7 separate regions of the Homo sapiens genome follow, and regions 1, 3, 4, 5, 6 and 7 are each reported to be linked to region 2. Evidence: microRNA targets listed by miRTarBase, many of them from high-throughput screens and not tested one by one. Region 2 holds a microRNA gene; each other region holds the end of a gene's coding sequence.
The links. Region 2 holds the annotated microRNA hsa-miR-6848-3p (GUGGUCUCUUGGCCCCCAG, at 1,478-1,496, opposite strand). A microRNA usually pairs through its seed, bases 2 to 8, with sites in the 3' UTR of a target mRNA and lowers its output. Matches are read on the target gene's strand: a 7mer-m8 pairs with bases 2 to 8, a 7mer-A1 pairs with bases 2 to 7 and ends in A, and an 8mer does both.

Region 1: miRTarBase lists TTC31 as a target of hsa-miR-6848-3p. The part of its 3' UTR that is shown has no 7-base or 8-base seed match.
Region 3: the mRNA of LZIC is a reported target of hsa-miR-6848-3p. Seed matches in the 3' UTR shown: 7mer-m8 at 654-660.
Region 4: the mRNA of DCUN1D2 is a reported target of hsa-miR-6848-3p. Seed matches in the 3' UTR shown: 7mer-m8 at 2,514-2,520.
Region 5: the mRNA of PCSK2 is a reported target of hsa-miR-6848-3p. Seed matches in the 3' UTR shown: 7mer-m8 at 2,348-2,354.
Region 6: the mRNA of TLR6 is a reported target of hsa-miR-6848-3p. Seed matches in the 3' UTR shown: 8mer at 1,181-1,188 and 7mer-m8 at 2,455-2,461.
Region 7: miRTarBase lists PIGO as a target of hsa-miR-6848-3p. The part of its 3' UTR that is shown has no 7-base or 8-base seed match.

Annotation. Positions count from the first base shown.
Region 1 is chr2:74,492,297-74,496,715 of GRCh38, reverse strand. TTC31 (tetratricopeptide repeat domain 31) reads right to left here. Exons shown (of 13, transcript NM_022492.6): 11 at 4,271-4,412; 12 at 3,969-4,070; 13 at 2,157-3,794. The coding sequence ends at 3,498. Among named protein-coding and RNA genes, the nearest start is that of LBX2, 5.1 kb to the left of the region's middle.
Region 2 is chr8:144,315,776-144,320,164 of GRCh38, forward strand. It overlaps MIR6848 (microRNA 6848), which reads right to left and starts at 1,540; the gene lies at 1,471-1,540. DGAT1 (diacylglycerol O-acyltransferase 1) reads right to left here. Exons shown (of 17, transcript NM_012079.6): 3 at 3,253-3,293; 4 at 3,060-3,145; 5 at 2,924-2,976; 6 at 2,686-2,791; 7 at 2,486-2,587; 8 at 2,320-2,394; 9 at 2,139-2,242; 10 at 2,009-2,047; 11 at 1,896-1,937; 12 at 1,769-1,813; 13 at 1,558-1,670; 14 at 1,412-1,477; 15 at 1,247-1,334; 16 at 1,078-1,140; 1 more. The coding sequence ends at 779. RefSeq lists enhancers at 579-638, 1,489-1,738, 4,155-4,389.
Region 3 is chr1:9,926,862-9,931,280 of GRCh38, forward strand. LZIC (leucine zipper and CTNNBIP1 domain containing) reads right to left here. Exons shown (of 8, transcript NM_032368.5): 8 at 1-3,596. The coding sequence ends at 3,538. Among named protein-coding and RNA genes, the nearest start is that of LZIC, 14 kb to the right of the region's middle. RefSeq lists enhancers at 953-1,462, 3,952-4,419.
Region 4 is chr13:113,454,580-113,458,998 of GRCh38, forward strand. It overlaps DCUN1D2 (defective in cullin neddylation 1 domain containing 2), which reads right to left. Exons shown (of 7, transcript NM_001014283.2): 7 at 1,240-3,529. The coding sequence ends at 3,450. Among named protein-coding and RNA genes, the nearest start is that of ADPRHL1, 3.3 kb to the left of the region's middle. RefSeq lists an enhancer at 1,439-2,369.
Region 5 is chr20:17,481,292-17,485,710 of GRCh38, reverse strand. PCSK2 (proprotein convertase subtilisin/kexin type 2) reads right to left here. Exons shown (of 12, transcript NM_002594.5): 12 at 1,133-4,127. The coding sequence ends at 3,641. Among named protein-coding and RNA genes, the nearest start is that of BFSP1, 48 kb to the left of the region's middle.
Region 6 is chr4:38,823,077-38,827,470 of GRCh38, reverse strand. It overlaps TLR6 (toll like receptor 6), which reads left to right. Exons shown (of 2, transcript NM_006068.5): 2 at 1-4,394. The coding sequence ends at 388. Among named protein-coding and RNA genes, the nearest start is that of TLR1, 20 kb to the right of the region's middle. RefSeq lists an enhancer at 3,565-3,734.
Region 7 is chr9:35,085,360-35,089,778 of GRCh38, reverse strand. PIGO (phosphatidylinositol glycan anchor biosynthesis class O) reads left to right here. Exons shown (of 11, transcript NM_032634.4): 10 at 329-399; 11 at 558-1,091. The coding sequence ends at 687. Among named protein-coding and RNA genes, the nearest start is that of FANCG, 7.6 kb to the right of the region's middle.

The DNA.
Region 1 (4,419 bases), not on the chromosome of region 2:
TGCCTAAGTGTGACAACCCTACTTTCAAGGAAGTTCCATGGGTTCAACGGGGGTCAGCTAGGGCCTTAGTTGCAGGTGGAGGGCCCAAGAGAGAATATTCCTTGGAAAGTGAACAAGGCTGGAAGGCAGAAGGGAATCTGGCATTTTCAGACAGTACCACTTATTAAGCAGTTCCAAGTGCTTTGCAGGTATTAATCCTTAAAATAACCCAACAGGACAGAGACTTTTCTTTCCATTTTAAGGATGAGACTGAATTACAGAACCCTGAGGAAACTTGGCCAGGTCACAGTTTGTAAGTGGTGGCACAGGGACTGAGCTGTTTGCTTGTCCGACTCAGGAGCCCATGCTCTTGGTCTCTATAAAGGTGACTGAGCCTAAAGGAAAGAAGCAAAGGATTTACAGAGAAAGGGGAGGAGAAAGGGCCACAGGTAGGGACTTAGGCATTGTACTTTAGAGCATGGTCCCTGGAGGTTTTAGAGAAGAGAGACAAGAGACCATTGTTTAGGGTAGGCCAATCTGGCTGTGGGCGCAGGTTGGATCAGAGACTGGTAGAGACCTGAAAAAGGGAGTATATATCTGGCCACTGCAAAAGGTAACAGCAGAGAGAACTCAGGGCCAGACTTGAGGTGGGGCTGGGAGGTGGTCACAGAAGAGGAATCTGCGATTGCCCCAGGGATCAAGGATTGCATGAGTCAATGACAACCTAGCAAATGTGGGCAACTGGAAGAAAAATGGCAACATGGAAACAGACAGTGACCACTGGTGTGGAGCTAAGAATCTGTCAGCCATTATGCATATGCAAAAAAATAATTCTTTGCAACTGCATTGCCCCTTCAGTACTCCCTTCTAAATACTGCCTCTCTGGAACATTTCCAGTAGGGTGATCAACTCTTTCCCATCTGCCCAGCATTTTCCAAGTTTTGGCATTGAAAGTCCCTCACTCCAGAACATCCCTCAGTTCCAGGAAAACCAGGATGGTTGGTCACTCTACTTTCCAGTCCTGGGAACTCAGAACTCAGGCTGTTGGGTCAGACCCCTATTAATTAGGAGGGTGAAAATGGGGCAAAGTGTCAGGAGTCACGTGACTCTTGGAGAAGCTACAAGTCCAGGGCAGGCTAAGGTACTGGGGAGGGAACATTTACTTGAGAAGCTAGAACAAGGAGCCAGCTCAGCTGGAAGGCAAAAATACCATTGAGTAGTGGTGGGTGGCCTTTGAGAGGTCAGGAGCCCTACAGACATCCCAAAAGCATGCAGGTCCCTGCTCAAAAACAGGAAAGCCAGATGGGCAGGCCTCTTATGGAACCACTGTAATATAATCACCCCTTGGACAAACACAACCACCTATGCCCATCCTGCTCCCCAACCAGGGGTGAGCAAAGAACTCTCAGGGCAAATCCTTCTAGTTAGGAAGGTAGGGTCCAGTCAAATTAACTGGCTGAGTCATAACCTCTCTCCCCATTGAGGTTTCCCAAATTCTAGCCCAGCTAGCACTGCCACCTCTTATACTGAAGACTTGGACAACAAAACTCAAACCTGTCCCACCAAAATGGCCTCTGGATGGAGGTCTGCTCCGCTAAGCCCCGCCCTTGAACAGTGTGTATCAGGATCACTTGGTAGGTTTATTGAAACACAAATTGCTGGGCCCTGCTCCCATGGTTTCTGATGTAGGTCACTGCAGGGGGCCTGAGAAATTGCATTTCTTTTTTTTTTTTTTTTGAGAGTTTTGCTCGTTACCCAGGCTGGAATGCAATGGCGCAATCTCGGCTCACCGCAACCTCCGCCTCCCAGGTTCAAGCGATTCTCCTGCCTCAGCCTCCCGAGTAGCTGGGATTACAGGCATGTGACACCACACCTGGCTAATTTTGTATTTTTAGCAGAGGAGGCGTTTCTCCATGTTGGTCAGGCTGGTCTCAAACTCCTGACCTCAGGTGATCCACCCATCTTGGCCTCCCAAAGTGCTGAGATTACAGGCGTGAGCCACCGTGCCCAGCCTGAGAAATTGCATTTCTAGTAAGTTCCTGGATGATGCTGATGCTGCTAGCCTAGAAAGCACACTTTGAGAATCCAGTCCCAGAACTCTGGATTTTGTGAATTTCAGCACCAATTCACCCACACTCCTCTCTTCCTATTGTGGGAAGCATGACTATGTAGGACAGTTGCAGACAAAAAGTGGTTTATTTAGCACCCACTATGTACCAGGCACTTGGGAGGTATTTTCTCACACTTTCGCTTTCCATCCTCACAATATCCCTTATGAGGTAGGGACTACCCTCATTTTTACAGGTGAGGGAACTGAGGCTTAGATGTTGACAGACCCATCCAAGGTGACCCAGCTGGTAATGGTAGACTTCATCCTGCTACACAGTATTTAAGGGGCCTAAACCATAAACAATTTTTAAAAATTTGGGAAAGTCACACATAAAGGAGATGTTTCAATACCTTCTCTCTCCAGGTATGAACAGTATTGAGCAAGACCCACAGGGCAGCAATAATCATTTATCCTGATGAAAGGTTCCTCTGTGAAAGGTAAGGGGGTTGGGGGAGACCTAAAGCCTTCTGCAGACCCACATTTAAATGAGCTGACAGTCCCAGCAGGACTACAGAGGAACCAGCTAGGGGAAGCTGCCAGGATCTTAGACGTGAAATTAAAAGGAGATCATGCTTCTTACCCAGGAAGTGGGGAATTCAGTTGACCCTTGAAAAAACTGAATAAATTAACATGGGGAAAGGCTAATTACCATGCCCAGTGCTGGGGTGGAGAAACAGAGTGGCCAAGGTTGTAGCAGCTTGGGCACCTGCTGAGGCCCCATTCAGCGGGAGAGCCACCAGTTGGGAGTGTGGACATGTATGGCCCTACCAGCTCTAAGCAGGAGCTGGTAAGGGACTTCCCAAATGCAAACCCTTGGTGAATATTCTAGCAGTGAGAGGAGGTGAGCACCAGACCACTGGACAAGAGAGGTCAGAGTCATACATAGCAATCTGGACAGGAAATGGCATGAGGAGCTGTGAGTAATCTGGGGGCTATGGCTAGAAAAACAGGGCACGAGCTGGGGCTGAGAAGAGGTGAGCATCCATCAAGCTGAAAGGTGGGACTCAAGCCCCCTCAGCACTGTGACCCCGTTCCTGTACACCAAGCTCTAGTTGGTGAATGAGGTCCCCTGGACCAAGAGGAAGAGAAAGGCCCAGATGCTTTCTCACTGTCTCTGCTATAGCCTAAAAACCTGAACTTTTCTATAGTTCCCTTCTTGAGCCTTGGTGGGTTTTATTTTTCCTTACTGCCTCCAGAAGAAGCTTGAGAACCAAAGGATGTTTCAGTGGATGTGGGGCTCCTTTCTCTCATCAGAAGCTTCCCCATGGCAAGAGGAATGACTGCCAGGGCATCATTAACTATGGATCTAGAGAATAAGGTCTCAAAATATGCAGTGAACTGTCACCACACTATGTCCCCCACCAAGGGATATATACATGGCCCTGCCCTATGAGGGACCGGTGCCCCCTCATCTGGCCTGAGACAGATGCTGGAGCCCAAGTCCCAGGATGTCCCAGCCCTTTGAAGGGTCCTGGGGCTTGAGAGGATGGGGCCTTCTACTCTGAGTCTGGGAGAGGGGCTGGTTGGGGTGGCTTCGGTGACATGAAGGATAATGCAAGAGTGGAGACAGGCCAGGGGACCTCAAAGCAGTGCTTCGAGGGCACCTGAGGGAAGGTAGGCCTGAGGGTGCCAGCTCAGCATGGGGAAGTGGCTGGAGGGCCCCAGGTGACAGAGGTGGTGCACAGATTCCTCCTCGCTGACCCTGCTGAGAAGGGAGAGAGAAGGGCACCAGATCCTTCTTTTAAGCAGGAGAGCCCATGCCTCTCATTCCACCCATCCTTCCCCGCCCCCTCCTTAGCCACCTGAGGCTTGGTATTGCAGTCCCAGCCAATTCTCCCTGATACCCGCCTCAGCATGACAGTGTGCCTGGCCCCCTTACCAGTGTGAGGTGGAGAAGGCAAGAGCGGAGCTCTCGGGCTGCGTCAGGCTGGGACCCACCTCTCAGAGTTTCCTGAAACACAGCAGCTGCCTCTCTGAAGCGCTTTGGTCCCAGAGGGATCAGAAAGAAAAGATTAGGTGTCAAGGTGCTTAAAAGTACCCTTTCTAAAACTGGCCCCTGCTCCTAGTACCACAACCATTGTGACACTTTGGTACTAGAAGCTTATCTAGAAAGTCAACATAGACCCTCTCCCCACTCCATCCCACTCAAATCTCTCCTGTTTCCAGCCCCAGACCTATTACCTGTAGTCCCATCAAGGCCTTGCCCAGGCGGAAGAGGCCCCGGGGCCAGCCAGGCCGTAGGGTAAGGGCCACCTGGGCATCAGCCAGGGCCCACGCTGGCTGACCCAACCGCTCATGGCAGAAGGAACGATTTCCAAATAACCTGATAA
Region 2 (4,389 bases):
ACCTGGCTGCCCAGGTTCCAAGTGAAGGAAAGAGGCTGCCAAACCGAGCCCTGCCCCAAGGCGAATAGCCATGGACATAGCCATTGTGTACCGTAGCCCCTCGGCTCACCAGACCCACACCAGAAAGGCCCTGTGGACTGCCCATCCCTGGGCCATCCTGGCTGGAGCCCACTTCCCGCAAACCCAGGGCCGACCTCTTCCCAAGCTGAAGCTGAGCACGGTGGGTGCAAGTTGACCATCCTGCACTGAGGGCCAGAGTGCCGATTCCCGCACACCCAGCAGGAGTAGCACCAGGAGAGGACGCCTGAGCTGAGCTTTTCTAGGTAGGGGAGTGTGGGGAATGGGGGCGTCTGCCTGGCCTTGCACTCCCCCTACCGGCCATGCCCGCCCTGCTGCAGTGGAGCTGCTGCTCCCCGGCAGGTCCTGGGACAGCTGTCCACACAGCTCTGGCACTCGCCCTTGTGGGTGTGGCCATACCCCCCACCAGGCCCCAGGCCCCTGGCAGGCTGAAGAGGTCACTGGACAGCACTTTATTGACACCCTCGGACCCGGGGCAGGGTCAGCAAGACTCCCAGCTGGCATCAGACTGTGTCTGGCCTGCTGTCGCCATCCCTGAGGGGTGCAGGACAGAGCCCCATAGGGGCAGAGAGGCCTCCCTGGGACCAGAGGAGGATGCTGTGCAGCCAGGCCCATCCCCAGCACTCGAGGCCTAGGAGGAGAGGTGGGCTCTGGCAGCGGGTGTGAGGTGGCAGTGAGAAGCCAGGCCCTCAGGTGCAGCTCAGGCCTCTGCCGCTGGGGCCTCATAGTTGAGCACGTAGTAGTCGTGGACGTACATGAGGACGGCTATTGGCTGTCCGATGATGAGCGACAGCCACACAGCTGCGTTGCCATAGTTGCCCTGGAAAAAGCGGCCCACGAACCAGGCCAGTGGGATCTAGGGAGTGAGGGGCCAAGTCAGTCGGCCATGGTGACCACAGGGCTGGGGGCTTCAGGGTCCCTGGGCATGGGGAGGGTCAGCCGAGGGGTTCAGGTGCGGGGTAACTGGGCGAGTGAGGAGGCCACGTGGGGGTCACTCACCTGAGCCATCATGCCCGTGAACGCCCAGAGGCGGAACATTCGCAGAGGGACGCTCACCAGGTACTGAGATGGGAGGGAGAGAGGATGCCAGGGAGTGGGGTGTCAGCCGTCCCTGCTGTGGGCATACCCCTGCCCAGGGATGAGGCAAGATGCCCCCCAGAGCACTGACCTCGTGGAAGAAGGCCGAGGCCAGGAACACCCCTGTCCTGGCCATCCACTTGCTGCTGCCCCGTCGAAGCATGGGCTTGTAGAAGTGTCTGCAGAGGAGGGGGCATGGAAAGCGGTTCAGGTTCACAGCCATGTTCCACATCACACACACACACACCCCACCTACCTGATGCACCACTTGTGCACAGGGATGTTCCAGTTCTGCCAGAAGTAGGTGACAGACTCGGAGTTCCTGGGGGCCAAGAGACCACAGGGGGATCAGAGCACACCATGGCCCATCCCAGCCCCCAGGGACACCCCAGGGACACTCACCACCAGTCCCGGTAGAACTCCCGGTCTCCAAACTGCATGAGCTCAGCCACGGCATTCAGGCAGGAGTGGAAGAGCCAGTAGAAGAAGATGAGCCAGATGAGGTGATTGGGGACCTGGCAGGGAGGTGGGGGTGGGCACCAAGTTCTAGAACCTTCCCCCACATGCCACTGTCCCCTCCTGTCCTGTGCATGCGCCACCTGTCCGCACTCACCGCCAGCTTCAGGAGGCGCTCGATGATGCGTGAGTAGTCCATGTCCTGCAGAAACAAGCCCTTCAGCTAGCCATGCTCCTGGTCACTCCCCAGCCACCCCAGCTGCAAGAGCACCTGAGCCACTCACCTTGAAGGGCTTCATGGAGTTCTGGATGGTGGGGACCATCCACTGCAAAGGAGGGCACCACGTCAGCTCCCAGCCATGCCCAGCTACACCCAACCCTGCCCTACCCCACTTACCTGCTGGATCAGCCCCACCTGGAGCTGGGTGAAGAACAGCTGGGGGGGAAACAGAGAGCAGCCAGCTGAGGCCCTGGCTAGCCAGAAGGCCCCCTAGCCTCCAGTGGCTGCCCCCAGCCCCCAACCTCACCATCTCAAGGATCCGTCGCAGCAGAAAGCGCTTCCGGATGCGGGGAGAGCGGGGAAAGTTGAGCTCGTAGCACAAGGTGGGGGCGAAGAGGAAGTAGTAGAGATCTGGAATGGGAATGGGGGGTTGGTACCAGAACAGGCCCAGCCTGTCCCCCGCACCTCAGGCCCACAGAGGTCCTCACCGCGGTAGGTCAGATTGTCCGGGTAGCTCACGGTGTGCGGGGCAGCAGCACTGCTGGCCTTCTTCCCTGCAGAGGCTACGAGCACAGCAGAGTGGGAGGGGGCTGGTGGGGCCCTGCTGCTGCCCAGCCCCCCAGCAGGCAGCCCCAGCCCCTGGCAGCCCCTCACCAGCCTTGGCCCTGGCCCTGCGGCACCATGAGTTGACGTCGCGGTAGGAGAAGAGCTTGAGGAAGAGGATGGTGTGCGCCATCAGCGCCAGCAGGGAGCCCACTGCAGGAGAGGTGGACTCAGGCCTCCACAGCGCCACAGCCGGAGGCCATGCCCGTGGCTGGCCCGAGACAGATGGGCAGGGTGGGATGGGGGCGCACCTGGAGTGATAGACTCAACCAGTAAGACCACAGCCGCTGGGAAACACAGAATGGTGGCCAGGTTGGCCACGTGCAGCAGCAGTCCCGCCTGCTCCGTCAGGGCACCCTGGAGTGGGGAGCAGAGCACTCAACCAGGGCTCCCATTGCCTGGGAGAGGGCTGCCAGGCCTGGGGAGCAGCTCCTCCCAGGAGCGCACACAGCAGGGTGAGCACACACGGAGGTGAGGGGCACTGCTTACCACCGCCAGGCGCTTCTCAACCTGGAATGCAGCCACAGCAAAGACATTGGCCGCTGTGGACAGAAGCACCAAGGGGCAGGTTTAGGGCCACGTCAGCCTGATCCCCACCCGAGGCCCTCCTCAGAGCCCAGCTCACCAATAACCAGGCATGGGGCGGGCCAGCTATAGGGATCCTTCAGGAACAGAGAAACCACCTGGATGGGGTCCACCAGGATGCCATACCTGGGGGTGGAGGGATGGGGGTCTGAGTGGGTGGCAGGTGGGGCTGTGGGGCGGGGCCTGGACAGGCCATGGGTGGGGCAGGGGTGGGACCTGGCAAAGGCACTCACTTGATGAGGTTCTCCAGAAATAACCGGGCATTGCTCAAGATCTGCGAGGGATGGACAGGAGGGTGCAGCCCCTTTAGTCCTGGCCACAGGGTACTCACCCCAGATCCTCCCAACACCTCTGGGCACGTCCCAGCCCGAGCTCAGGGCGGCAGCCTCAGGCTTGCAGACCCAGCCCTGTCTGGTCTCCATGCCAAGCTCTGAGACTCAGCACCCACCTCAGCCAACACCAGTGCTGGGTAAGGGGAAGTCCCTCCCTGTCCCCATCACACCAGACGGTCCCACATGGAGGGAACCAACCGGCCAGACCAACCAACCCTGCCAGACGCCTGGGTCTTCAGGAGCAGAAAGACCAGCTGCTGATCTGCTCACATCCCTCCTGCTGAGCCGAGCCAGTGAGGGACCCAAGGCTCCCACAGCCAACCACACCCCAGAGACAGCCCCAGAATACAGGCCTGCCCAGGGAGGCCTGCCCACGGCTGAGCCCCAAGGAACCAGTCCCTACTGGTGGCCAAGGCTGAAGAGGGGGAGTTGTCTACTCTTTCTCTGCAGGAGCAGTGTCCAGCTGTGTCGCAAGGGGGGCTGGGCCTGGAGTGCTTCCCAGGGCTTGTGCCCCGCCTGCCTCTTCTGCTTCCTGCCGCCCTCTAAGCCTTGGACACTTGGCTCCAAAGCAACTTCCCAGGACTGAGCCCCCATGGAATAAGGCTCTTGGGACGAGCCTGGAGTTGGGTGCTTGGCCTCCCTCTGCAAGGACAGGAACCTCCTCCTCCATCTTACAAGCACTACCAACACCTCCATTAAGCTGGGCCCCAATGCCGCAGACCTGGCTGACCACCCGGAGCTCGGGCCTCATGCGGTAGTGAACTGGTGCTGGGGAAAAGGGTCGCTGGCAAGGGAACACTGAGGGTGTCTTGCCTGGGTGGTCAGGGAAGGCTTCATGAGAGAGAAGACTGCTTCAGAGACACAAGGGCTACTGCCCCGCCTCCCCCGGCCGCAGGGCTGACACACAGGCCTTCTGCATGGACACGTGGCCCACACTGTCACTGGCCTCTCCCGAGGGCTGACAGCAGGCAGAAGCCAAAGCTGCCAATGGACGGTACCCACCTCCAGGCCCAGGCCACAGAAGGAATGCAACAAGCA
Region 3 (4,419 bases), not on the chromosome of region 2:
TCATTTAATAACTATAATTGCATAGAATTTACTCACTTTTCAAATACTTATTCTGAATGAATACCAAATTTGTGAAACAAAATATATCCTATGGTGCTTAGAATGGTTGTTAAATGGTGAGTTAGTTTTCCAAGTAAAAACTTTACGTGCATTAACAGAGGGGAATGCATAATAATCCTATGAGGTAGGCCCTATTATCCTCATTGAATAGAAGAGAAAAGGAGGCTCAAAAAAATTAAGTAACCCACAAAAAGTCACACAGCTGTGACTGTCAGTGTCCTGCTGGGCACTGCAAACTAGGCCACTTTTAAAGTAAGATCATTTTAAATTGAGTACTCTTACTTACAAAATGAACACATTAATGTGATAATTGACAAAATATTTCAGATGCTGGACTTATAGAAAGTTTAAGGAAAACCAAGATTAAGGATTCCAGATTCAGGTAACTCTCTTTATCTTTTTTTTAGACAGGGGTCTCACTTTGTCAGCCAGTACAGTGGCGTGATCTCAGTTCACTGCAACCTCTGCTTCCCAGGTTCAGGTGATCCTCTGACCTCAGCTTCCTGAGTAGCTGGGACCACAAGTGCATGCCATCACGCCTGGCTAATTTTTTTTTTTTTTTTAGAGACAGGGTTTCACCATGTTGGCCAGGCTGGTCTCAAATCCTGAGTTCAGGCGATCCGCCCACCTCTGCCTCCCAGAGTTCTGAGATTACATGCGTGAGCCACTGTGCCAGGCATTAGGTCCCTTTCAAATTCAAGATATTCCTAATTTTTCTGGTCTACTATTGCAGGGTAAGGGAAGAATCTTCTTCCTCTTTTTTTTTTTTTTTTTTTTTTTGAGACCGTGTCTCAGTCTGTCGCCCAGGCTGGAGTGCAGTGGCGCCATCTCGGCTCACCGAAACCTCTGCCTCCCAGGTTCAAGTGATTCTCCTGCCTCAGTCTCCCAAGTAGCTGAGACTACAGGCACCTGCCACTATGCCTGGCTAATTTTTGTAGAGATGGAGTTTCACTGTGTTGGCCAGGCTGGTCTTGAGCTCCTGATCTTGTGATCCGCCCGCCTTGGCCTCCTGAAGTGCTGGGATTACAGGTGTGAGCCACTGTGCCCGACTGGTGGGAAGAATCTTCTATGGCTTAAAAAACAAACGTAGGCTGGGTGTGGTGGCTCAGGCCGGGTATGGTGGCTCATGCCTGTAATCATCCCAGCACTCTGGGAGGTTGAGGCGGGTGGATCACCTAAGGTCAGGAGTTCGAGACCAGCCTGACCAACATGGAGAAACCCCATCTCTACTAAAAACACAAAATTAGCCAGGTGTGGTGGCGCATGCCTTAATCCCAGCTACTCGGGAGGCTGAGGCAGGAGAATCGCTTGAACCTGGGAGGCAGAAGTTGTGGTGAGCCGAGATCACGCCATTGCACTCCAGCCTGGGCAACAGAGTGAAACTCCATCTCAAAAAACAACGACAACAACAACAACACAACAACAAACGCAGCAATTCCATTCCTAGGTGTACACCCAAAAAAATTGAAAACAGGTATTCAAACAAATATTTGTACACAAATGTTCACTGAAGCATTATTCACAATAGCCAAAAGAAGGAAACAACCCAAATCATCAACAGATACCGGATAAACAAAATATGATATCCATACAATGGAATATTATTTAGCCATAAAAAGGAATAAAGTACTGATACATGCTATAATGTTGGTTAAACTTGAAAATATGATGATGTCCCGGTGTGGTAGCTCACACCTATAATCCCAGCACTTTGGGAGGCCGAGGCAGTTGGATCACCTGAGGTCAGCTCAGGACCAGCTGGGCCAACATGGTGAAACCCTGTCTCTATACTAAAGGTACAAAAATTAGCTGGGCGTGGTGGTACACACTAGTAATCCCAGCTACTTGGGAAGCTGAGGCAGGAGAATCTCTTGAACCTGGGAGGCGGAGGTTGAGATTGCGCCATTGCACTCCAGCCTGGGCAATAAGAGTAAAACTCTGTCTCAAAAAAAAAAAAAAAAAGAAAAGAAAATATTATGCTAAGTGAAAGAAGCCAGATACATAAAAAGGTCACATATCATATGATTCCATTTATATGAAATATCCAGAATAGGTAAATCCACAGAGACAGGGTGCAGATTAGTGGCTATTGTTAGCAGTCGGAGGAGAAGGGAATGGGGACTAACTGCTTAATAGGTATAGGGCCTCCTTTGGGGGTGATAAGAATGTTCTGCAACTAGAGAGTAGTGATGGTTGCACACCACTGTAAATGTTCTGCCAACGAATGGTACACTTTAAAATGGTGAATTTTATGATATATGAATTTCACCTCTTTTAAGTTCCAAATAAGGCATCAGTGTAGCGGAGGTCCTCTAATCTGTCTGGTTGGCAAAGCACCTAGTAGTTTACAGTACAGAAGAAGCTTTAAAAATGCTTTTAATTTGTATAAAGTGCAAAGAAAAAGAATATTGAGAAGCACATGAAAGAATATAAAATGGCTAGAGCCTAAAAAATAAGCTAATATACACGCATAGGGACACATCTGCATATTTGAGCATACAGAGACATGTAAATACTCAGGAGAGAAATTTGCTTTTCCTCATAACTTATTTTGTGTTTCTCCAAAACCTGAAGAGTAGATAACAGCTGACAGTTACCCCCCTCTGAGTGTGACAAGAGGTCACGCACAGGGAGGGCCTCTAGCTGCCATTTCCTGTTGCTTCCCTGGTCAAACAACGCAGGCGGCTAAGTCACTTTAGGAAACGCTCAACAGGGCTCCCATTGTTCCAACCTCAAAATTCCGAGATACAACGGGCCCCATTAATACAGACAGCTTACAGGCTGGGGGATGGTCCCTTAGTGTGCAGTCCACTTTTTATTGGGACACTGAATTTTCAAAAACACTGACTTGCACAAATAGTGTTAATTATTTTTTTTAAATGGTACAGAAATAAAATTCAAAAGATACTAAACTGGGAGTCAGGACACCTGAGTCTTACCCTCAGCTCTCTGATGCGACTTTAAGCAAAGTCGCTTGCTCTTTCTGGACCTCAGTTTCCTTGTTTGTAAAAACAGAAATGATTTCTAAGATCACTCAGAATTGTAAAATTCTATGAACACTTATGAAGTCTATTGAGCTTGCGTCACTGTTCACTCCAATGAGTGGGGATAAGTTGTAAGCAGAAAAATATCATTACTTCACATCTTTTCGTTCACTATCAACACTTAAAAACAAACAGCCTTAATAAAAATCAAGTCCACTTTGTTTTCTCTCTTAAACAGACAAATCATAACGAACAGAGTCCAGTGAGTCCCTCTGTCGCAACAAGTTCAGGATCACTCAAGCAGGTAACCGCACACAACGCACAATGATGAAGAGCATAAACACAAGCCATAAGTATATTTTTATGTCGCTTTTTCTTAGGTTATTGATGCATTTCCAGAATCTCTTCATTTCTTTGCAATAACTGAAAACCCCAGAAGAAAGACACCATTTACATTAAGAATGTGATCAATGTTACAAGCTTCTGCACCATGTCATTTTTTTGTTTTTTCAACCTCAAAACTTGCCAGAGCAAGAATTTTGTCTCCAGAGCCTAAGAAAAAAGACACATAATAAACAAAAAGATTATTTCAAGTGCAGTTGCAATTCCTGGTAAAGTGGGAAAAAATCTATCATATAGATATTAAAACAGAAAATATAATTAGCCTCCATTATCAGTGTATTAACCCCTACACGTTCCCATTGCCATCCCAATTTCCTTCCCTCTGCACAAACAATCCAGCTACAAAGGGGGACTTATTAGTTATAAATCCTTATTCTAGCTATGAAATATAATATGTAAAATTTAATTTATTTATTTATTTATTTTTTTGAGATGGAGTTTCGCTCTTGTCGCCCAGGCTGGAGTGCAGTGGTGCGATCTCGGCTCACTGCAACTTCCACCTCCTGGGTTCAAGCAATTATCCTTGCCTCAGCCTCCCTAGTAGCTGGGATTACAGGCACGTGCCACCATGCCCAGCCAATTTTTGTGTTTTTGGTAGAGAGGGTTTCACCCTGTTGGCCGGGCTGGTCTCGAACTCCTGACCTCAGGTGATCCACCCACTTCAGCCTCCCAAAGTGCTGGGATTACAGGCTTGAGCCACCGCACCTGGCCATAAAATTTATTTTAAAACATTTCTGTGAAAAAAAAAAATAAAGAAAGAAGAAATATTTTTTGCGGGGAGACAGGTCTTGCTCTGTCACCCAGGCTGGAGTACAATGGCATGATCTTGGCTCACTGCAGCCTCAAATATCTGGGTTCAAGTGATCCTCCTGCCTCAGCTTCTCAAGTAGCTAGAACTGTAAGTGCATGCCACCACACCTAGCTAATTTTTTTTCTTTTTAATTTTGTTTATTTATTCATTTATTTATTTATT
Region 4 (4,419 bases), not on the chromosome of region 2:
TCACCCTCCACTGTCTGCTGGTGGAGGCAGCCATCAGCACAGTCATGCCAGCTAGCATGATCCTGAGATTCAGAAACAAACTTCAAAACCAGCATGCAGGCCGGGCGCGGTGGCTCATGGCTGTAATCCCAGCACTTTGGGAGGCCGAGGCGGGCGGATCCCCTGAGCTCAGGATTTTGAGGCCAGCCTGACCAATATGATGAAACCCCGTCTCTACTAAAAATACAAAAATTAGCCGGGCATGGTGGTGGGCACCTGTAATCCCAGCTACTTGGGAGGCTGAGATAGGAGGATCACTTGAACCTAGGAGGCAGAGGTTGCAGTGAGCCGAGATCACGCCATTGCACTCCAGCCTGGGCAACAAGAGCAAAACTCTGTCTCAGAAACAAACAAACAAACAAACAAAACTCCAAAACAAAAAACAGCATGCACGCAGGGTCCCTATCCAAACAAGACAGACAGGAGGGGCGGCCCTTCGTTCAAACTCTCACCTGTTTTAGGCACAACTGCACTGTGGGGCCGAAGCGTGTGCTGCTGAGGGGATTAACACAGCCCGCTCGCTGAGCGCTTCAGTTCGCAGGCGGCGGAAACCTTTGCCAAGAGCACTAGCTGGCTCCCTCAGCAAACAGGACGGGATAAGGTTAGCTCGTTTATCCAACAAATATTTGCAGAGCCCCTACTTTGTACCTGAAACTGTGGACACAGCAACAAGGATCAGAAGAAAGTTTATTCTTGGCCCCAAGAAGCCTGAGGTCTAAAATGGATATAAACTTCAAGCGAAAATAACACAATGACATGTACAATGTCACTGAGAGGAGCTGGCGTTGTTGATTCCGGAACGCTGGCAGGTGCACCGTGAATCGGCAGGTAGCACATGATCCTCAGACCCCCGTGCTTGGCCGTTTGCCTCCGATAAGGGACGGTTTCCAGCAGTTTGTGCTGGCACACATGACCTCCTGCCCCGACACACTCCCGTAAATCCTGCCTATTGTGAGATCTCTCATTCCTCACATGAGCCACCCCATCAGGTGCACGGTGCACCGCTGAGAGGCAACGCAATGACAGAAGGTACCTGAGGACCTGGTTACCTGGCCAGGGCTGGCGGGCCACACACGGGGGCAGGGGCTTGCCCGCTGGTTGCTAGCTGGGGGCTGTTCTCTCATCCTGGGACAATGACGTGGATGCTGACACCTATAGGCAGACATCCCTGCAGCTGAGGAGAATCGAAAGGAAACCACGCCCGAGAAAAACCAATTTAATGCTTCTGTTCTCAGCATTTCACAGCATGCAGGACTCAAATGGATACAACAGAAGAAAAAAACCCACAATTTTTGGAAAAGCCTTTGTCCAATGATTAATATTTTGATATCTATTGACAATCCCTTAGAACTTTAAATCTCAAAAACAAAAAAGTACTGTGGATCTCCATAGTTTATACAGAATTATGTGAATTCTATAAACTTTTCTGAACAAAACAATTACATGTCAAGAATCCATGAAGCCTGGAAGATACGCTCACGTTTTTGAGGTTTGTATTAATGCCAGTTTTTATTGTATTAGACAAATGCTCTCTGAGAATCGAAGACTTCTAAAGGTAGACAGGCCCAGTTTCCCATTAGAGTTCTGGAAGCAGAGCCTGGGGAAGGTCTGTCACTTGCCCATCACTGGACCAGCCAGAAGCCAGCGGGGGCCAGGCGGGGTCTGCAGGCTGCAGGTCCCTTCCAGTCCTGTCCCTGCTGCCCTCTGTGACCATCTCTGCTAAGAAACATCGACAGTTCGTCCTGCAGCCTCCAAGCACACTAACCTCAGCCATCAGATGTTCCTGAAGCCCAGGGTAAGTCCTGTTCTCAGAAGCCAACCCAGCTGCTTGTCTGGGCCATGCTCTCTCACACCGCAGCTAGGTCATCTGCGGCGACTCTCCTCTGTGCTGGGCAGCAGCTCCAGCTGGTCCACGTCCTGCACAGTGCTGCAGGGGGGCAGCAAGGCACGCCTGTGACATGAGAGTCTCGGCACGTGAGGTAGGGTCAACAGTGATGTCCACAACTCAATACCAGCCCTCCACACCTCGGCAGCACTCGTGGGTCCTCCTCAACCAGGCGGACACGAGAAACAGATGATAACATGGTGCAAGGACAGACTTCAGCTCACCAATCAGATGAAGGTTTTGGGGTTGGGTTTTTTCAGACAACGATGTACATTTTAGCTTCCAAATGTGCACAGGGGCACAAAGGTCTGGATGCTGGGCACTACGGGTACCACAAGAGGATGGAAAGAACCAGCTCATTCGGTTTTATTGTATGTATGTATGTATTTATTTTGAGACAGAATCTCACTCTGTCGTCCAGGCTGGAGTGCAGTGGCGCGATCTCGACTCACTGTAACCTCCGTCTCCTGAGTTCAAGCGAATCTCCTGCCTCAGCCTCCTGAGTAGCTGGGATTACAGGCATGTGCCACCATGCCCGGCTAATTTTTGTATTTTTAGTAGAGACAGGGTTTCACCATGTTGGCCAGGCTGGTCTCAAACTCCTGACCTCAGGTGATCCACCTGCCTCGGCCTCCCAAAATGCTGGGATTACAGGTGTGAGCCACCACGCCCGGCCTTGATTTTAAAATCTATAATTCATCACTCATAAAATAAATGTTTTTCATGGAAAAATGTCTTTTTAAATGTAATTAAAATATATTTTAAAAAAACATACTTTATGAAGCTTCTCAGGCAGGTCAAATAATATTTAAGTAAGAGAGGCCCAGTGATATATAAACGGTGTGAGATAAACTCTGCTGGAATCGTGCCACGTGTGCCGTTGCTATGCAAAGCTACATGGGGATTGAGAACCATAAAATGATTTTCAGATGAATGTCTAGAGAAAATGAAAACAAAAATAGAGCTGGTAAATCTAGATATTTGGTAATTCAAAAAATATAAATCGTGAATTGCTGGCACCAATTTTAAAAAACATTAGACTCTACGACAAGATCCTCTCCCTTAGGGCACATTCTTAACAGCTTTGACGTGTATAAAAACGCAGCGCCCTGCAGAGGACACATGCCGTGTTGCCAGTGCCACCGCAACGTCATTCGGCGGGACGCTGCCGGACGCTGGTTCGCCTGACGCGCGAGCTACGCAGCATGCTCTGCGGTCCCACAGGCGGCGCTATGGCTCTACCTTAGTATTTTGTAAATATTAAAAAATCATGCAGAAATTTCCTAACGCAAAAGCTATGATGACAAATCTCCAAACATCCCAAAGCAGCCGTGTCCCGAGGAACTTCCTGCGGTGTCCACAAAGCAGCCGCTGGCTGTCCTCCGGCAGAATGGGATGGCGCCTCTGGTTTCATGGCTGGTCAAGAATGACTTCTGGAATCAGCGACAATGCACCCAGGAACTGACTGCAATCTCCTTGCAGGATACAAATCATTTCATAATCTTACTCCTGCTTAACTTGCTGCCTAGAAAAGGCTGCGTTTTCCACCTGTGACTACTGGCCGTGCATATTCTACAAAATCATCTATAAGAACGGGCCAAGCTCCTAAAGGAAAGCAAGCAAACAGAAAACCCGTTAGAGCACCGTTTTTATCTCCAAAGCACTGAGTCACACATCAATCCAACATTTACACTTCAAGAACCCAAATGACTTGAGGTCCACACCATTTGTGTTTCACAGAATGAACCAGCCCAAGTTACCCAGTTCTTTCGCCCTAGCACGGCCAGGTCGGGAGCCCTGGTGTGTGTGTGCTGGCATGTCTAGGGGGCTGTGGGCTCACAGTGGCCCCGGATGCTCGGTGAGTGCCCCAGGCAGTCACACCAGCTGCTCAGGAAGGGAGCTAAATGGACCCCCGCGGAGCAGGAGGCATGTTCCTCAGGTCATTGGTATTCTTGCCAGCAGGGGGTGCTCCCTCCTGCGGCTCTTCCCAAGTGGGACCACCCCATTGCTCCCTTCCCCACCCCGGCAGCCCTGAGTGCCCTCTGAGCTCCTGCACTGCTGCCTCAATCCTGGAAGCCGCGCTTCTGTCAATGAGATTCAGTGATCCCTTCTTTCATTTGACAAGCATTTACTGGGTGCCCCTGATCTAGGGACGGTGCAAAGTGTGGAGGACACAAAGAGAAGCAGAAGCTAAAACAGGCAGACAGACACGTAAACCACCCGTTAAAGGCACGGCGCCAGGGCCCAGAACAGATCACTGCCCGCCGAGGGGGCAGGGAGGAAGCAAAGTGGGTGGGAGCCTAGAGGGGAGGCCTTCCACCCAGAGACCATCCCTCTCTAAGGTGGCAGCGTGCCCAGCACACAGCAGGCTCCAAAGGCCCTCCAACGCAGAGTCCTAAACACGGGGGGAGACAAGTATGTGGAGATATATTTATGCAAGAAGACAGGAGCTGGAATCTCCGAGTCAGCCTGAAGAGTGCAGTGTGGAACTGACC
Region 5 (4,419 bases), not on the chromosome of region 2:
TTAATAATTGAGTTTAAGTGTTATATCAGAGGACAGAATTATAAATTGTTTTTATAATTAACTTTGGTAAATATAGTATATTAATATTTTATGAATAATTATTAAGGTCTTTTTCTAGAATAGTCTGTGGTCTATGGGGTAAGGTACAGCCAGTTTGTAATAATGTTCATGGTACCATCCATGAAGAGTGATTGCCATGTTAAATCGGTTCTTAAGAACATGTTTTAAGGGAATGTCAAGCACTCTCTGTAGTGGAGACTCTAATGCTCACCAAATATTCCCTTAGTTGTCACAGATTTCCCAGTTGCTTTGCATTTAGCCAGGGCTATTGCCCAATACTGGCCAGTGGGCAATGGGCAGAAGCGATGCATGTGTCTCCTTCAGGCTAAACATAGAAGAGCAGATGAATGTCCTCCTTGGGTTCTCTTCTGCATGGTGATTGTAGCAGCCTTGTGCTATGATTACAAACCATACGGTGAAACAGCCTGGATCCTGAGTCACTGCATGGAGGTCTGTGGCTTTGGGGAGTCACCTGAACCTTCACTGGAATTTGTGTGGATGATAAATAAACCTTTGTTGTATTAAACCACTGAGATTTTGAGATTGTCTGTTACTATAGCATAACTTAGTCTAGCCTGATTAATATATTTTAGAATAGTGTTTCTAAAAGATTTTTGACCATCACTCACAATGAAAAATGTATTTTACATTGTGATCCAGTACACACACTCAGACACACACACGTGTGCACACACACATCTGAAACAAATATTTCAGGAAACAATACTTATCCTTATTATGCATGATTATTCTATTCTATTCTATTCTATTCTATTCTATTCTATCCTATCCTATCCTGTGATTTTCTTCTCTCCTACTGTATTCTAAATTACTCTATTTTATTAAAAACTGACCTCCTAAATTGATTTTACAACCCACTAATGGATGTAACTAGAGTTTGAAAAATACTGCTGTAGATAATAATTTGTGTATGATTTATATGTTAATTATAAGTCTTTTATGCATACTTAGTAAAGCAGGCTCTTTAGATCTCTCTTTGGCAATTTTTAAATTATCTGTTCCTAGAATGGATGAAAGTATTTTCATGTACAATATAGCACATCTCACATAATTTCTGGAGCATAATGTTTTATTGTTGAGCCTCCTAATTTACAACATGTCTTTTGAAATTTGCTTATAAAATTTTGTCACAGGGAGCAACAATGTTAACCTAATTATTATTCACTTATTTTCATTTTTTAAAATAAATGACTATAAATAACTGTCTCTTCAGTTAGGATCAGGGATATCATAAAAACATCACTAGCGAGACATATTTTAGTATTAATACTGATGCAAAAAATGAAATAGAGACCAAATATTTATATATATAGCACTATATATATTTTTATATATTGTATACTCATATCAAAACTTGCCATTTCTCTTAAGTAGCTGATAAGTTGCTTTCTAATTTTATAAATTACACCACACCTGTGAAAATATGGACAACTATTTTATATTTTTGCTGCTATATAAGACATTTAATGTTTATACAGAGAGCTGAAAAATTACAGAGGTGATGCAATGGGAATTGATGAACATTTTCACCTGAATTTCCACTGGCCTTTTTCAGCCAGAATCATCTTGATATTCTCTGAATATTCTTTTAGAAATGAGTATGGTATCTGTTTCTTCAATAAATACACATACACACATTATAGGTATATGTGTATATACATTTATACAAGTGTATGTATATATACACATATATACACACATGTATATAGTCTACATATGTATATATATTTCTGTGTGCACTTATACACACATGCACACATAATGTCCTTTGGTTTATTTTTAGACCATTAATGTGAAATGAATTTTCGATGATTTCCATTTATTTTTTCTTGAAATCTAAACTGGTTTAAAAAGACCTTTGCAACAAGTAATAAATTTCTTTTAAAAAATCATATTATTACACTTTAAAGCATGATATAGAGAAGGTCACAAGGTGTTAGAGAAGACAGAAATCCATGCCAATATGGGAGAAAAGAAAGCAAATGGGGTTTTCAGATTTCTCTCTTAAAGTGGCCACCTTCAGGGAATTGAACCTAGTGCTCTGTGTTGCTGGCTTGAAGGAAAGGTGCTCCAGGCTAAGCTCTCTGCTCCCACAGGAAGGGAGATGGTGCCTGGAGAGGCTGAAGACAAAGCATTTCTTGGGAATGGATGTGCATTGGGACTGGGGATGAGAAGCAATCTCTGGGTAGGTCACTTTGGTAATGTCTAGTTGGGAATGGAGTGGTGACTTTTGGGATTGACCATAACCTTCGGGTTGCATGTTAAATGGTCTCAGGGACTGCTTAGTTGCCGAGAAGGTGACTGTGTGCTTTCCTCACAGAGGTCTTCTCTCACCTCCTTCAGGCCTCAGGTTCCTCTGGGATGAATTGCATGGCCCTCTCTTGGCAGAAGAGGCTCCATACAACTGGAGAACTATGTGAAGATAGCGCTCGCATCTTCAAACGTGCCCCTTTCACCTCCCATGACTCTTCCGGGACAGAGGCCTTTTTCCCAACACATTAATGACATCAAACTGTGGGGGAGTATGAGATTTCTCTTCCATTATATTACTTGGAAATCAAAGCCCACATCTGTGTGTGTAAAGCTGTAAAAAAAAAAAAATACTCCTGTCGCCTCTCACTCAGATCAGATTGAGACACCTCAAAGTGACTTAGGAAAAGGGACATTCTTGTTTGAAAAGCTAGTAAACTACTCTTCACCAGGTGTGTTGCCAGGCTTGTCTTAATTTTTTTTCTCTTTTGGGTAGCTATGTGAGGAGCCCCAGAAAATTGGGGCTGGGATGAACTCTATACAAACTGAGAAAAATTTGGGCTGCTCTAGCGGATTTTAACATAACTCAGAGCAGCAGCTGGTGAGAGCACAGCCACGCTCTGTAAGTTTTATATTTGCCACGCCGGCTGAGTAGAGTGAATTATCTTGGCATTGGTAGTAAAATATCCAGCACTCATGCTTCCTGGATCTCTTTCCCCATGCAGTAACTAGGGCTCTCTATGAATGGCATCTTTTGAATCACATCACCTTAATCTACATCCCTGGTAAATCTCACTAAATTCAAAACATCGCTCCCCAAAGGATTTATAGCACAGTGTCTCCTGTGCTTTCAGAGATGTGGCGCTCACACCCTGTCCTCAGCTTTGATTTTCTTGTTATGTAACAGCCCCTTGTTTGAGACCATGGACAATTGTTCTTGGAGTCACTCTATGTGGCTTTTAAAATACGTTCTTTTCTCAGAAACAAAAAAAAAAATGAGGGGAAAGCTGTCCCAGTTTTTTTTTTTTTTTTTTTTTCAGGATATCACCCATTTGAATGACAGAAATAAAGAATTTAGAGTCACACATAGGACATGGATGTTGTTGGGAACGCTATATTTGGGGCATAGAGTAAAAAAGATTGTTTCCATTGTAATGAAAATAATCATTGACAGTGAGTGAAGCTTCAGATTAAGAAGACGGAATTGCCTGTACGGGTGATGGAATTGCTAGGTGCCTGCCTGAAACGTGGAGCGAGGACAGAGGCGGAGCTGGGGAGGGAGGGCGGTGGGAAAGGCGGATGTGCAGCGCTAGTTCTTGTTAAGGATGCTTTTCAGGCTTCTCTCCACGGCTTCGTCCAGCTCTTCCTCCAGCTCCTCTTTCTTGGACATGGCCAACTTGGACTGGTAATCCCGCACCACCTGGTCGATGTACGGGGCACTCTGAGTGCCATGCAGCATCAGGGTCCACTCCTTCAGCACCCCCTTCTGCGGGGCGCTGCCGACAAATCCCAGCTCCAGGGTCCAGGTGCCTCGGGCGTCTTCCCCCCACGTGTGAGTGGTCATGAAAGGCCACTTGTCAAAGCCCACCTTGGAGTCGTCATCCCTTGGACGCCGGCTCAGCAAAATGGACTTGGTGCCCATAGGGGAAGTCATGTTGATGTTCAGGTCTCCTCTTCTGGTTGCGTTGACCGTGATGACAGCCTGGACATGCTCCAGGTAGCGGACAAAATTTTCCTTCCCCTCACAGGCGTCGGTTGTGAGTGTCAGCACCAACTTGCCAGTGGATGGTATTTTCCTGAGGGCAGAGTGAAGAGGAGATAGGATAAGCAGTGGTGGGTGCACCTTACAAGGGATTTTGAGGGCAGCTTCAGGTGGCGGAAAGGGCAAGGGCTTTGGGGTTGATCAATCAGACCTGGGTTTAGTTCCCACACTGGCTGTGTGAGCCTGAGTAAGTTACTTATCTCTTTTTTTTTTTTTTTTTTTTTTTTTTGTCTTTTGAGACAGGGTCCCACTCTGTTGCCCGGGCTGGAGTGCAGTGGTGTGATCTCAGCTCACTGCAACCTTCAGCTCCTGGGTTCAAGTGATTC
Region 6 (4,394 bases), not on the chromosome of region 2:
TATACAGATTTGTCTTCATGAGAGAAACTTTGTCCCTGGCAAGAGCATTGTGGAAAATATCATCAACTGCATTGAGAAGAGTTACAAGTCCATCTTTGTTTTGTCTCCCAACTTTGTCCAGAGTGAGTGGTGCCATTACGAACTCTATTTTGCCCATCACAATCTCTTTCATGAAGGATCTAATAACTTAATCCTCATCTTACTGGAACCCATTCCACAGAACAGCATTCCCAACAAGTACCACAAGCTGAAGGCTCTCATGACGCAGCGGACTTATTTGCAGTGGCCCAAGGAGAAAAGCAAACGTGGGCTCTTTTGGGCTAACATTAGAGCCGCTTTTAATATGAAATTAACACTAGTCACTGAAAACAATGATGTGAAATCTTAAAAAAATTTAGGAAATTCAACTTAAGAAACCATTATTTACTTGGATGATGGTGAATAGTACAGTCGTAAGTAACTGTCTGGAGGTGCCTCCATTATCCTCATGCCTTCAGGAAAGACTTAACAAAAACAATGTTTCATCTGGGGAACTGAGCTAGGCGGTGAGGTTAGCCTGCCAGTTAGAGACAGCCCAGTCTCTTCTGGTTTAATCATTATGTTTCAAATTGAAACAGTCTCTTTTGAGTAAATGCTCAGTTTTTCAGCTCCTCTCCACTCTGCTTTCCCAAATGGATTCTGTTGTGAGCAAGAGTTTATATGGCTTCATGGCAGCAAGGGAACAGTCAACTTCAGCATCATATGCACCAGTCCTCGGAGTGCCCTGTGAATCATATTGGTCTTTGGGTCAGTGTCATCATTCTCTTCAAGTCTGGGGCTTGGGGAAAAAATTAGATCAGCTACGGCATATAAAAAAGTCTTTTGTTTCACATATGTGTAATAGCTTATTTAATTTTTTATCCTGCTACACAAATATGTAATTAACCAATGAGGACTCATGACTTGATAGTGTATGTATGTAAAGGGATATATGGACTTAATCATAAGCTGTTGAGGTGAAAGACGTGGATCCACCTGCTTTCCAAGAAAACTCGGCCAAATTTATTTGCAGCTGGATATTGAATGGGACTTTTCTGGTTGTCTTAGAATTCTGGCTAAAGGCTCAAAGCTGACGAAAGACAGTAACTGCACCAACATGATACTAGACACAGCCAGTCTGGACTTATCAAAAGAGCAGAAAGAGACCAATGACTCCCAGTCCGTATTATCCATCTCTAGAAGACTAGAGTCAAAAGCGTGATTAAAGAGTCATTAAGCGGAGGTTCTAGGCCATAGGGAGATTGCTTTGAATTTCTTGCAGACAAGTGTGAGGGACTCAGCATGGTAGAAGGTAGCCTGGCATCCCACTCCAAGACTGAAAGCTTGCAGAGTAACAGGAGCACACAGGTTCAGTGCAGCAGATGTGGTGTGGCTTGAGAATTCTTGGAAGAGCTTGATGAGTGTTTGCTGGAGTCCGAGGGTGGGCACTGGGAACACAGAGACTGGTAAATAGTGTTTGGCAAATACAAGTGCTTGATGAATATTTGTTGAATGAATAGATGAGTTCTTCCCCCCTGGGGAATTCAGGAGGTGAAAGGTTGGCTTGAGCACCCAAAATGGCAGGATGAGAGAAGAGAAGCACTGATAGCAACCTGCCCTCCCATTATTGACATGGTAAAAGGATGTGAATTTCTTCACATGGCTTTGACTATGGAAGAGTAGCTGGGCTTGCATTGTCATGACGGGATATCAGCCAACAGGGTAGCCTGTTGTGCAAAGAAACTATAGCAGTAAGAGGACACGGGGTTAGGCAGAAGAGGGGTTTGGGGTGGAGGTTGCTGCAAGAGGTCAGCCAGATAATGTGGCCCTGCATCATGGAACTGTGCAATGTGGGGTACACTCAAGGCCCTCCAATAACTCACAGATGTGCCCTATGAAAAAGCCAGCATTTGGACTCTGCCATAGCAGCTGGCAGGATCATGCTGGCCTGTCTGCCTTATTCAATAGTTAACTACAGGAAGATCTGCTCCTCTTTGTGTAATACCCTCTTCCCTTGCAATGGCATAGGGACATCTAGAATATAGAGAAGACAGAGACAATGGAGGAAGAGTAAAGAAACTGACTATATGCCTTCGTCATTTCACTGCAAGGAAGGCCAAGCAGATTTTTGAATGAGGTGTGAGATTGCTGTTAAATTGGACTGGCCTGGACATTTTAATCCCTTAAATAGAGGTGCAATGACTAAAGTGAGATTTGTCACTAAAATTTATGGTATCTGCCCAAGATTCAGGAGTGATGATGGGAGGAGATCCAACAGAACTTTGTTGTAAGGCAATGGTTAGAGAAAAATGAAGCCCTCGCTTTCTGGACTTAGTTCATTCAATAAACCAGTTTCGGCCAGGCACGTTGGCTCACATCTATAATCCCAGTACTGTGGGAGGCTGAGGCAGGTGGATCACTTGAGGTCAGGAGTTCGAGACCAGCCTGGCCAACATGGTGAAACCCTGTCTGTACTAAAAATACAAAAATTAGCCGGGTGTGGTGGTGTGCACCTGTAGTCCCAGCTACTCGGGAGGCTGAGGCAGGAAAATCACTTGAACCTGGGAGACAGAGGCTGTAGTGAGCTGAGACAGCGCTACTGTACTCCCCGCTGGGCAACAGAGTGAGACTCCATCTCAAAAAAGTTAAAAGAAAAAAAATCTGGTTTCATAATAGCTGTAACGAAATAAGCCTTAATGATATTTTATTAGCATCATCTTCTGTCTGCATTAGCCCTTCCTTGCTCTTCAGGAGAACAACATTTGTTTTCCTCCCTAGGCTCTATCCCAAACGGCACATTCTTCCACAACCCCTGTTGAACAGATTTTTTAAACTGTTGCCTAATCTAAAAACAATAAAAACAACAAACAACCACAGTAACAACAACGACAAAAAAAACTGCCACAGATTCTAAATAATCAGATCTTTTTAAATGGTATCAATGTTTCCCACAAAATATTGTTGACATTGAAAATATAGAATTTTAGCATTAATTTTGTTAAACCTACATCCCCTCGGCAGAGGGGCCTCCCTGCATCCCAGTGGAAAGTAGGTTCCTCACAGTCCTCTCCGTCACATTCTTCCCATTTCTTTTCTTCACAGAACACATCACTGTCTAAAATTATCTTGTTTGCTTAGTTGCTTACTCATCTTCTTCTTCTCTCCTCTGAAGTCTAAGCTCCAGGAAAAAGGGAGACTTCTCCACCTGTTCCCTGCCTCTCCCCAGTGCCGAGGGGACACTGTGCACCCCATTGTAGATGCGCAGTAAAAACTCGTGGGATGAGCAAATGACTCTGAAACGGTCCCATGCGGGAAATGTCCATGAAGTCCTGGATTTTATCTAAAAAGCCCAGGCAGGGGGGGGCGGGGGCGGCGGGGCTACAGTTCCACGCTGAGCTGCCTCCTGGCCGCTCGTCCCCGCCGCAGTGCCTGGGCGGCCCGGGCGCCCGACCTTGGCCGTGGACACCTTCGCGGTGGGTGCTGCTCCTCCCCATCTGCCACTGGAAGATGCTGGGGCGACCCGGCTCCAGGTTTAGCAGGACACTGAGAAAAGGGAATGGCTGCCTTTCGGAGGCTGGGTGAGCCCTTCTCTGTGCCTCACCTGCCCGCCCCACAGCGGCCCTGCACCTCGTCCCACGGGGCCCATTGCCCCGGTAGGATGCGCGCTTTTGTTTTGAGGGTCAGGCATCTTCCCTGCCGTCGTTTCTGGGAGGTTGAAAAATTGATCCAGAAAGACCTAAAACAAAAAACAAAGAAAAACAAAAAAGCGAAAAGGAGGCAAAACAAAACAAAAATCCATACAAATAAAGTATCTCCTCCATCCATGTTTGCACTATTCCTTCTCATTCCCCCGTCCAATGCCACAATTTGGTAAGTTTGCCTCAACACGTTTTCAGTTCTTAACACTGTGATAAGAATAAACAATAGATCCCGTAGTAAGATGACCTGTTAAAAGGAATGGGGCATGGCAGAGATGAGTTTGGATGAGGAAAGGTGTCAGTCCGTTTGGGCTGCTCTAACTAAGTTCTGAGATGTGTGTTAGGTAATTTTGACTTTGGTTGAACATCATAGAGTGCACTCACACAGACATAGATGACATAGCTTACTACACACCTAGGCTTATGGTATAGCCTGTTGCTTCTAGGTGATTGTAACACAATGCTTAGTATTTGTGTATCCAAACATATCTAAACATAGCAAGGGTATGGTAAAAATATGGTAAAGAAGATAAAAAATGGTACACCTGTATAGGGCACTGATGTGGGTTGGCTGTGTCCCCACCCAAATCTCATCTTGAATTCCCACGTGTTGTGGGAGGGACCCAGTGGGAGGTGATTGCATCATGGGGGCGGGTCTTTTCCTGTGCTGTTCTCCTG
Region 7 (4,419 bases), not on the chromosome of region 2:
ATTTTCTTCCCAAACTGTGGTCATGGATCCTCTTCCTTTCCTCCAGAGGCAGATGTGGCACTGATATCTTCCTCCATCCTGGGGGCACAGCCTGAGTGTTAGCATTGCAGATGGATACTGACTTGCCCAAAGTCACATAGTGAGTCAGTGCTTGGGGCAGGGCAGGAAGTAGGTCTCCTAACTCCTAGCCCAGGACATGCAATATTTTTTCCACTGACATGCACTATTCTCCTGCTTCCATTTTTTACAGGGGCCTATAGAAACTCTCCTTTTGCTCCGCTTCCTCCTCTCCTTCACAAGTAACGTGGCCCCTCCTCTCCTCCTCTAGATTCTGGCCTGTGCCTTGGCAGCCTCCATCCTTCGCAGGCATCTCATGGTCTGGAAAGTGTTTGCCCCTAAGTGAGTAGATTTGCTTGAGAAGTAGAGGTGGTGGGGAGGGAGAAACTTGGAACAAAGTATGAAGATCCTAAACATCCAGGATGGCCAAGGTTTTGCCTCTACAGGGAAAAGGCAGTAGACCTACTCTGTTGCCTGAGATTCTCCGCCTTTCTTTGCAGGTTCATATTTGAGGCTGTGGGCTTCATTGTGAGCAGCGTGGGACTTCTCCTGGGCATAGCTTTGGTGATGAGAGTGGATGGTGCTGTGAGCTCCTGGTTCAGGCAGCTATTTCTGGCCCAGCAGAGGTAGCCTAGTCTGTGATTACTGGCACTTGGCTACAGAGAGTGCTTGAGAACAGTGTAGCCTGGCCTGTACAGGTACTGGATGATCTGCAAGACAGGCTCAGCCATACTCTTACTATCATGCAGCCAGGGGCCGCTGACATCTAGGACTTCATTATTCTATAATTCAGGACCACAGTGGAGTATGATCCCTAACTCCTGATTTGGATGCATCTGAGGGACAAGGGGGGCGGTCTCCGAAGTGGAATAAAATAGGCCGGGCGTGGTGACTTGCACCTATAATCCCAGCACTTTGGGAGGCAGAGGTGGGAGGATTGCTTGGTCCCAGGAGTTCAAGACCAGCCTGTGGAACATAACAAGACCCCGTCTCTACTATTTAAAAAAAAGTGTAATAAAATGATAATATAATTATGTGTGTCTGAGATGTGGGGGAGCCCCACTGTTCTATAGGGGTTGTGAGGAGGATCAGTCTCTCCTGCCACCAGGCACAGATGAGATCAGTCATCTTAGGAAAGCCTGGCTGCACCTGAGAACCTTTATGAAGTGGTTGGAGTTGTCTGAATTCACTGCCTCCACCTCTTCCCAAATCAATCCTATTATCCCACCGCTATTTTCCTTTGCCATGCAACACATTTTGTTAAGTTCCTGTTCTTTGTCTGATAAAGAGAGAAGACTGAGAAGACAAGCCCAGGCATCATGCAGCACCGACTTTAACTGTCTGAAGCCCCAAATAGTGCTATGCCCCCGCTCCACTGGGCCTTTTCACTATAGAACACCCTTTGCCCTTCCCTTCTGTGGAAGCCTCCCTTGTTTCCCAACCTGTGCCACTCTTTATCAGATCTACATGCCCATCTTATGTAGCATTCCACCTTGTCCCATTCATTATTCCTGACTTGAAGCCAAAATTGTGTGAATCCACTGGTTCTTTTCTCATGTGTATGTTTTGTGCCCTCTGTTCACCCCAGCACTCCTGTCATGTTTGAAATGCTGGCATGAAATCCTCCTAGAGATGTCCATCAAAAGAGTTGGGAAGAGGCCCTGGAGAGAAGCATCAGGACTGGGATTTGAGGTTTGACAGTACCTAGAACAAGAGGAGCTGATACCACTGAAAAACAGAACAGATGTTAAAACCATGGGATAGCACCTACTTTTAGCTGGCATAAAGTAGAGAAGCTGAGTAGTAGTGGTTGTGAAGTATAAACGTTCACTGCTGTGGTAGGTAGCTAAGGGAAGAATTGAAATTATTTTTATTGTTACTATCATTTTAAAGACATATTTTTGCTCTATTGTCCAGGCTGGAGGGCAGTGGTGCAATCATAGCTCCCTGTAGTTTCAAACTCCTGGGCTCAAGTGATCCATCTCAGCCTCCTCAGTATCTGGGACCATGCCTGGCTAATTTTTAAATTTCTGTACAGACAGAGTCTTGCTACATTGCCCAGGCTGTTCGTGAACTCCTGGCCTCAAGCGATCCTTCCACCTTGGCCTCTCAAAGCACTAGGATTACAGGTGTGAGCCACAGCACCTGGCTAAGTTCAGATTATTAATGGCCAGTGGTCCCTAGTGTTACAGATGCCAAATAGTAAGATGATGAAAAGTATGGTTCAGCTGGGTGTGGTGCCTCATGCCTGTAATCTCAGCACTTTGGGGAGCCAAGGCGGGTGGATCACCTGAGGTCAGGAGTTTGAGACCAGCCTGGCCAACATGGCAAAACCCCATCTCTACTAAAAATACAAAAATTAGCCAGGTGTGGTGGTGTGCACCTGTAATTCCGGCTACTCAGGAGGCTGAGGCAGGAGAATCGCTTGAACCTGGGAGGCAGAGGTTACAGTGAGCCAAGATCACGCTACTGCACTCCAGCCTGGGAGACAGAGCCAGACTCTCTCTCAAAAAAAAAAAAAAAAAAAAAGGGATAGGTTGTTAACCATGGTAGAAAGAGGTTTAATAATGCAAGGGGGTGAAGTTGGCCCCAGCTGGCCTGTAAGATGAATTAGAAAAACGCTTCTCCCCAAGTCTGGTGGACACAACTCCCAAGCATAGTTCGGTGAGCAAATGGTGTCTTTTTGAGAAAGGGGAAAAAAACCAAAACAAAAACCTTTCCTCCATCCCTAGCACCCATGGAAGGATTTTAGGCCCTAGTTCCTCCACTTCTCAGCCAGGTACCCTGCACTTTTTGCAGTAGCCTCCTTGCCTGGAGCCTAAGGCTAATTTGCTGATCTGCCAACCACTGTCTATTCTTTCTCCTGGTGTATCTATAAGATTCTATTAGATAAAGACATTAGTACATTGATTTACGCTATTAAAAATTATTTCTAGCCAGGCACTGTGGCATGTCCCTATAGTCCCAGCTACTTGGGAGGCAGAGGTGGGAGGATCACTTGAGGATAGCAAGACTCCGTCTCTACAAAAATAAAAAAATTAGCCAGGCATGGTCCCAGCTATGTAGAGGCTGAGGTGGATCACTTGAGCCCAGGAGTTAGAGGCTGTAGTGCACAATGAATGCACCTGTGAATAGCCACTGCACTCCAGCCTGGGCAACATAGATCCTCTCTCTTTTAAAAAGAAAAATTATCTTATCCCTCCCTTTTCCTTGAAATCAGAGTCCATTCCACACTAACTCAATGATTCTTTTTTTTTTTCCTTTAATTTTTTGTAGAGGTGGGGGTCTTGCTGTCTTGCCTAGGCTGGTCTTGAACTCCTGGCCTCAAGCCATCCTCCTGCCTCGACCTCCTCAAGTGTTGGGATTGCAGGTGTGAGCCATTGCACCCAGCCCTGATTCTTTTTTAAAAAAGCTTTATTGAAATGCAATTTACCATAAAATTTACCCATGTAAGGTGTAAGATTTAATGGTTTTTGTGTATTTACAGAATTGTACAACCATCACCAGAATCAATTTTAGAACATTTTCACCAACCCCAAAAGAAAATCTACTGTTTAGATATCACCCTCCAATCCTCCCCAACCCCTGGCTAGCACTAATCTGCTGTTTCTCTATATATTTGCCCATTTTGGATATTTCACAGAAATGGGATCATAATAATATGTGGTCTTTTGTGACTGGCATCTTCCACTTAGTATAATGTTTTCCGGTTTCATCTATATAGCAGCACACAGCAGTACTTCATTCTTTTTCTTTTTTAAAATTGAAGTAAAATTCATATAAAATTCACCATTTTAAAGTGTATAATTTAGTGGCCGTTAGTACATTCACAACGTTGTACAATTATCATCATTATCAATTCCAGAATGTTTTCATTACCCCAAAAAGAAACCCTGTACCCTTAAGCAGTCATTCCTTCTCTTCTCCCCCTTAACTCCTGGTACCACTAATTTGTTTTCTGTCTCTATAGATTTGCCTGTTCTGGACATTTCATATAAATGGGCTCATACAGTAGTGCCTTTTTCTGTCTTATCTTCCTTTACTCAGCCTAATGTTTTCAGAGTTCATCTATGTTGTAGCATGTATTGGTACTTCATTCCTCTTTATGGCCAAATAATACTCTATTGCATGGATATACCACATTTTGTTTATCCATTCATCCATTGATAGCCATTTGGATTTACACATTTTGGTTATTATGTAATGCTGCTATAAACATTTGTGTATAAGTTTTTGTTTGGACATATGTTTTAATTTCTCTTGAGTGTATACCTAGCTGTACACTGAGCAACTGCTGGGTCATAAGGTAACTCTGTTTAATCTTTTAAGGAACTGCCAGTTTGTTTTCCAAAGTTGCTGTAT